Regions from separate parts of the Homo sapiens genome. Here region 2 is linked to region 1. The links come from fine-mapping of genetic effects on gene expression. A gene starts in region 1. The other region holds a variant in brackets. All regions are shown on one strand. Distances are from middle to middle. Region 1 holds the start of LRCH1 (leucine rich repeats and calponin homology domain containing 1). Region 2 overlaps LRCH1 (leucine rich repeats and calponin homology domain containing 1).

Region 1 (2,906 bases):
ATCCTATTCCACCACCCTCCTTCCTGTTTATAGATCCCGCTCCTGGAACTCCAACTACCAAAGAGAAAGCAGACGTTTTAGAAGTATGTAACACATGACGTAACTTGAAAAAGTTATGCTGCTTATTGGCGCGAGTTACAACTTGCCGGGCTCACACAGGAAAACAGGCTCACGTTAATTACTTTGCCTTTAATATGCCACGCCGTCCTTTCCTGGGGCCCCCGCAACGGTTGGGTAACTGAGAACCAGGTAGCCTCGGTGGTAGGACCCAAACTGTGTGGGCGGTGAGCAAAAGGCACGGAAGGAAGAGGGCCGATCGCTTCCGAAGCGGCAGCCGACTGGGATTCACTACAAGCCCGGCGGCTCTTTTCCCGCACAAGCGCAGGGAGAGGAAACTTGGGCACCTCACAGGCGGCACCGAGTTGCCCGATCGCTCGGCGATGTCGCCGAGGGGGCTCGCGGCACTGCGCCGATGCCCCTGGCTCGGCCGAGGGCGTGCCACCTTTGTCTGGGTTTCCCCACCAGGATGGGCTACGCCTCGATGCAAAGACGGCTTGAACTGGTTGGAGGCGCCGACGCCGCTGTCCGCGCTGGAGTTCCCAGCCCTGCGCGGGGCCCAGGAAGCCGACACAGCCGCCTGAAACCTCCCACTTACACTGCGCGCACGCGGCGCGCCTGCAAGTCCCAGCCCCGCGGTTACTTCCCTGGCGCGGCAGCCACAGGGTGGAGAGCCGGAGACCCCTCGCTCTCAGGCGCAGAGGCCCGGCGCACCCCTGCCCTCCTGGCACTGCATCGCCGGACCAGGCAGGGCCCCCGTGCCCTCTCCAGGGCCCGCTTCTTCCGCGCCCACGCGAGTCCCTTCTTCGGGAGACAACGGGCCGATGGACCCTCCCTCCCCCAGCAAGACAAGATCTCCGACTGTCCACCGCGTTAGGGAACGCACGACAGACACCCAGACAGCACCCACACCCCTGCCCGCCCCTCGGCCCTCACTCACCTGCCTGCACCGTGTCCGAGAGGTCGTGCCCGGGGGCTGCGGTACGGGGAAATTCCTTCAATTTCCTGGCGCTCAGGTTCAGCCCCCCGGAGTTGGCCGCCTCCTCAAGCGCGCGCTCCAGACCCCGGTTCAAGGGCAGGTTGAAGCCCCCGCTGCCACCGCCGCCACCACCCGCCCCGCCGGGGGCGCCGGTTCCTCCGTGGTGCTGATGGTGGTGGTGGTGGTGGTGGGGATGATGAAGTGGGTGCAGAGTAGCTACCGAAAGGGCCGGGACGAAAGGTTGGGGTTCGCTTCCCGGCGTCGCCATCTTCTCCCGGGCCCCCCCACCCCGCCCCGCCGCTCCTGCGGGGGGGTCACAGCGTTCCCCGCGAGGGGAAAACGGCAGCTCGGGCTGAGTGCCGCAGTGCTCCACCGAAAGGCGCTGGAAGGAGGGGAGGAGGGTGTGGGCAGGCGCGTAGAATGGGGGGCGGGCGGGGAGGCGGCCGTGGCAGCTCGGTCTTGAAGGTTTCCTGTCCCCGGGAAGCTAAGGACTGCGGCGGCGGCGGCGGCGGCGGCAGCGCGCATGTGTCTCCTCCCGCCCCTGCGCCCTCCCCCCGGCTGCTCTGCCCTCCTCCGCCGTCTGCTCTCTCCTCCTCCTTCCCCCACGCAGTCTGCCCCGCCTGAGCCTTCCTCCGCGCCTATTCTGCCGGCCGCCGCCGCCTTGCCGCGATCCGCCCCGCAATCGGGTACACGGCGGGGCTGGACGTCTGCTCCGGGGCAACTGAGGCGCCGAACCTCTCTCTGGGCGTCCTTTTGCCGCCCAGGAGGCTTTAGGGGACTGGAGGTTGCGGGGATAGGGGGGTGGTCTGAGAACACGGATAAAACGGCGGGAGGCAATGAATGGGATTTACAGTACAGTGAGGTTTGGGGCAGGAGAGGGTTCTCTCAATTCTGCGATTTATTCTGGCCGTTTAACCCAGAGATCCCCAAGAGGCAGTTTTCATTCACTATGGGGTCATCCCTGCAGATGCCCCCTGGCATTTGGGCGCTTACAATGAACCAGACGCTTGTTTAGGGAGTCTACGTAAGTTACCTCATTAATCCAGGGACCCCAGGAGTGCCAAAGTTGTTCCCCTGAGTCTACAGAGGAAGTTAATAAATGTATCTAAGGTCACCCCTGCAGTTAGAGGGGCGCTAGATTCGAGCTAGGGCCCTCAGAATCTAGGGTTGCCCTCCTTCACAGTGTACCCCTGGGCCAGACGCCAGCGCCAAGGGACGAATACGAGTGGGACAGAGTGTTTGCTGAGCGGCAGAAGAAAGCTACAGACATAGGAAAGAAAAACTCAAAATGAGGGCAGTGTTTATGGGGGACAGAAGACATTGTCGTAGGAGAAAGATGAGCTGGCTGCTCCCCGAAATTGGGTGGTGCCAGGAGAGGCTAGAAAGCCAGTGACCCCAAACAGCAAATCAGTCACAGCTCGAGTCTGAGCTGAAAGAACCATCGAAGTCTCCTTGTGCCCTTCTTCTTCCCGCTTTGGGGCATGGAAACGAACATGTCCGCTTGCAAGTGAATTCACATTCTGCCATCAGCCACCCAGTGGCACCCAGGCCAATGCTGGCACACCAGGGGCGACAGAGAACATCTGACACCCTAAGGGCAGACCAGCTGGACGATTAATAGAATACCATTCCTTTCCTGAAGTTAAAGCTTCATGTCCAACTTTCCAGGGCCTTTATTTTTGCTCTATTCTTAAGGCTTGATTGTCCCCTATGAGCGACTTGGCTTGGGGAAAATGAGTCGGGGGGTGGGTGCGGGGTTGTCGGGGTGTCAAGCACGAAAGTAATGCAACCCTTGGAGTAGGGGAGCTGGTTTTTTAAGTGGTAATACATAAGTTTGATGGCCTAGACAACAGGCTGGAACTGGTGACTT
Region 2 (2,906 bases), 43 kb before region 1:
AAGGCAGAGTGTCACCTTGTTCAACCTCCACCGGGTACGTGTACCTTGAGCTACTCAAATTTTTTTGCTGCTCTGTACATATCCACCAATGACCACAAAGAGTCCTCACGGATGGATTTGGGGCTTACAAATACATTTTAGCAAGTAGGCCAATTTCACAGATACAGAATTCTCAAAGATTGAGGATCGACTGTATTAACCCATTTGGGAATTTTCTTAGACCTAAACTTAGAGTAATAGATAGGAAGTCTATTCAAACCTTTCTGGGGGAAACTTTTAAAAGGTCACTTGAAAATTCAAGGGCTCTGAGCTACATACATAGAGCACTAGTTACTATCTTCCTGGGGTGGTGAAAATGTCCTCTTCACTCCCCCAAATTCAGCAGGCAAAATGCTGGGCAAATGATCGATTGCCATGGACCTAGCCATGTTGACTACCAGCATCTACCACCTGCGTAACTTTGCGTGACTTTGATCCAATCGCAAGCTGTTCCTCTACCCATGACGGGATTTCCCACAGTCTCCAGAAGGCACTTCCTGAAAATCATTCCCTTTGTCTATTCATGCCTTTAACATGTCATCTCAATGTAGCTTCAAGTTAGAATTCACTGACATTCTTTCATATTCTAACAAAGATGTCTCTGTTCCAAGATCGCTATTTCATTTCCAGATATATGCTAAGATAAAATTCAAAATTTAAAAAATGCCCAATTTTTCCAATTTGCTATTCATAGCAGCACCAAGTGTCTTAAATCATAAAAATGGAAACATCTGACAGACATACTGCAACTACAAGATCCTTATAAAGTAACACATGATTTTTTTTATCTCCCTGGAGAAGTAAAGATGCTTTGATTTATAGTCATGATCAGACTGTACCAAAACATGCTGCCTCCTTGAAGCAGGTAATATTTAGGGCTGCAATACAAGCTTTCCTCGGTGTTCATTAGGATCACAGTGTTTCTTCAGAGCTGCAGGAAACATTCAAAATTCACCAGCCCTTTATCTATTAGAAGAGATAAGCACTCAAGATGTGTTCCCAGGGAAAAAAACATTTTTGATCATGTCAACTCCCTCATCTATGATAACCATCCAAACCTCAGCTCCTCCTCCTTTCCTTTGAAACTAAAATAGGAAGCACTGGCATGAAAAACTTCTGCTTTTTAAAGTCTCAAAACTGGTTACTTGTATTTAAAAGCCTTTTTGCCTGTTTAAAACTAAAAACACTTTTAC[A/G]CCTTCATTAAAGTTATGACCGATGTGTTTAATTTTAAAGACATAGCTGCCATTCTTAATTACTTCCTCTACCTTTAACATCCCTGTCTTACATAAAATATTCAAAAAAAAAAAAACAATGTGAGGCCGTGCTTTGGATTCCATGTGGCCAATTTCACTCTGTGGCAGTTGCCAGCAGAACTCCACATCTAGAACAACCAGTATGTGCCTAAGGCCTTTCCTGTTCTTTTTGTTTCCTTGAGTTTATTCCTGTCAGGTGTAAGCACTCCAGAAATGTAGAATTATGACATAGGAACTCACACTGAGTCATAGCTGGAACTCATCTCTTCTGAGTTCACAATTAAAAACAAATGAAATCTAAAATTACATTGAAAACATAAAGGTAGATGGAAGTTTAAAGTGCAGATGTGGCTTCAGCCCCAGCTGGATATGCTCAGGGGGGAACAGATGTCAGTAATAAACCTAGGAGAGCTACAAAAGTTAGCTTATATCCATCACCAAGTGAAAATGCTGACGTACATATAAAACTGTGCCCTGCCTGCTTTCCTACCCAGTCTGAGTGTGCAATATGGAAACAGCCTGGAAAAGAACCCAGAAACCCTGTGGAGATGCAGAGCAGGTCTGCCACATCAGCGGTGAGGAAGTCACTTACTGCATGGTCGGGGTAGGCTAGCCATGCAGCACCATCAGGAAAGGTATGGTTTCTTCTAACACTTGGCACCTGGCCTATGCATCCTCTAAGTTCACCAAAGAAAGAAAACACATAATCTGCGGTTACATTCATTAAAGTCTGCCACAGGAGAATAGGGTTCTCGATGGGTATGGGGAGATGACAGAACAAAACTATAAATGACCAGGAATGGAATAAAATTAAACCTAAAGTGACCAGGGCAAAAAGCAAACCCCAGAATGATCATCATGGTATTAATAATTACATAAAGACTATAAACTCAGAAGAAGCTAGGAGAACACCCAGAGCCTGAAAGTTGGAGAAGGTTATAGCTGCCACACTCTTTAGATGAAGTTCATTTATGAGACTTTCTTTATATAGCCTGTATAGTTACATAAACTAGAGTCAATCAGGTTTTTCTAAACTGCGCTCTTGTTACTAGATCTTATTACAGTCTTCACATTTCAGAGCTAAATTAAAAAAACACACACATTTAGCCATATGTTTTCTATGGAAAGCACTAACCATACATTTGAAAATGAGGGTGACTTTCTTTTTTGTATTTTGCAGCCAGGATATTTTATTCACCAAAATTAAGCGAAGCAGTTCCTACTTATGAACTCATATGAACTAATTCAGCCCCGTCAAATCGAGAAACTTTAAATATTAAATTCTACTGTACAATCTCAGCTGGAAGTCATCTCTCTCTCCACCAACCTTCCAGGGCACTTGGCACCTATCCTATAATGCAAACATTCTGTGTAGCTCAAGGAGGTGGCCTGATTTGGTGCATTCAACAGTGGCTAGAGGTCTAAGCCTCTTTGCTTCTGCAGGGAGACAAAGAAAAATCATTTACTATTTTGCAAAGATCGCTTCATTGAATTTTCTTGGGGTCAATAGCCCTTAGCAGAAAACAAGTATTCCACACTTGTTCTATAAGGTTCTAGGAGGTTCTTACAAACCTCATCAGCAAGTAGTATTTTTTACATAACTTGCTATTAGCT

The links. PIP is the estimated chance that this variant, and not a neighbour inherited with it, causes the effect. A credible set is the group of variants that fine-mapping cannot tell apart.
Region 2: its variant is the best candidate, but not a certain one, in a credible set for the expression of LRCH1 in whole blood (GTEx, PIP 0.85).

What each region holds. Positions count from the first base shown.
Region 1 is chr13:46,551,795-46,554,700 of GRCh38, reverse strand. It overlaps LRCH1 (leucine rich repeats and calponin homology domain containing 1), which reads right to left and starts at 1,531. Exons shown (of 20, transcript NM_001164211.2): 1 at 998-1,531. The coding sequence starts at 1,304. RefSeq lists enhancers at 398-717, 374-1,074 and silencers at 1,278-1,337, 1,398-1,587.
Region 2 is chr13:46,594,310-46,597,215 of GRCh38, reverse strand. All of the region lies in intron 1 of LRCH1 (leucine rich repeats and calponin homology domain containing 1), which reads right to left. Among named protein-coding and RNA genes, the nearest start is that of LRCH1, 43 kb to the right of the region's middle. RefSeq lists a silencer at 1,780-1,829. The variant A/G (reference allele first, on the strand shown) is at 1,233.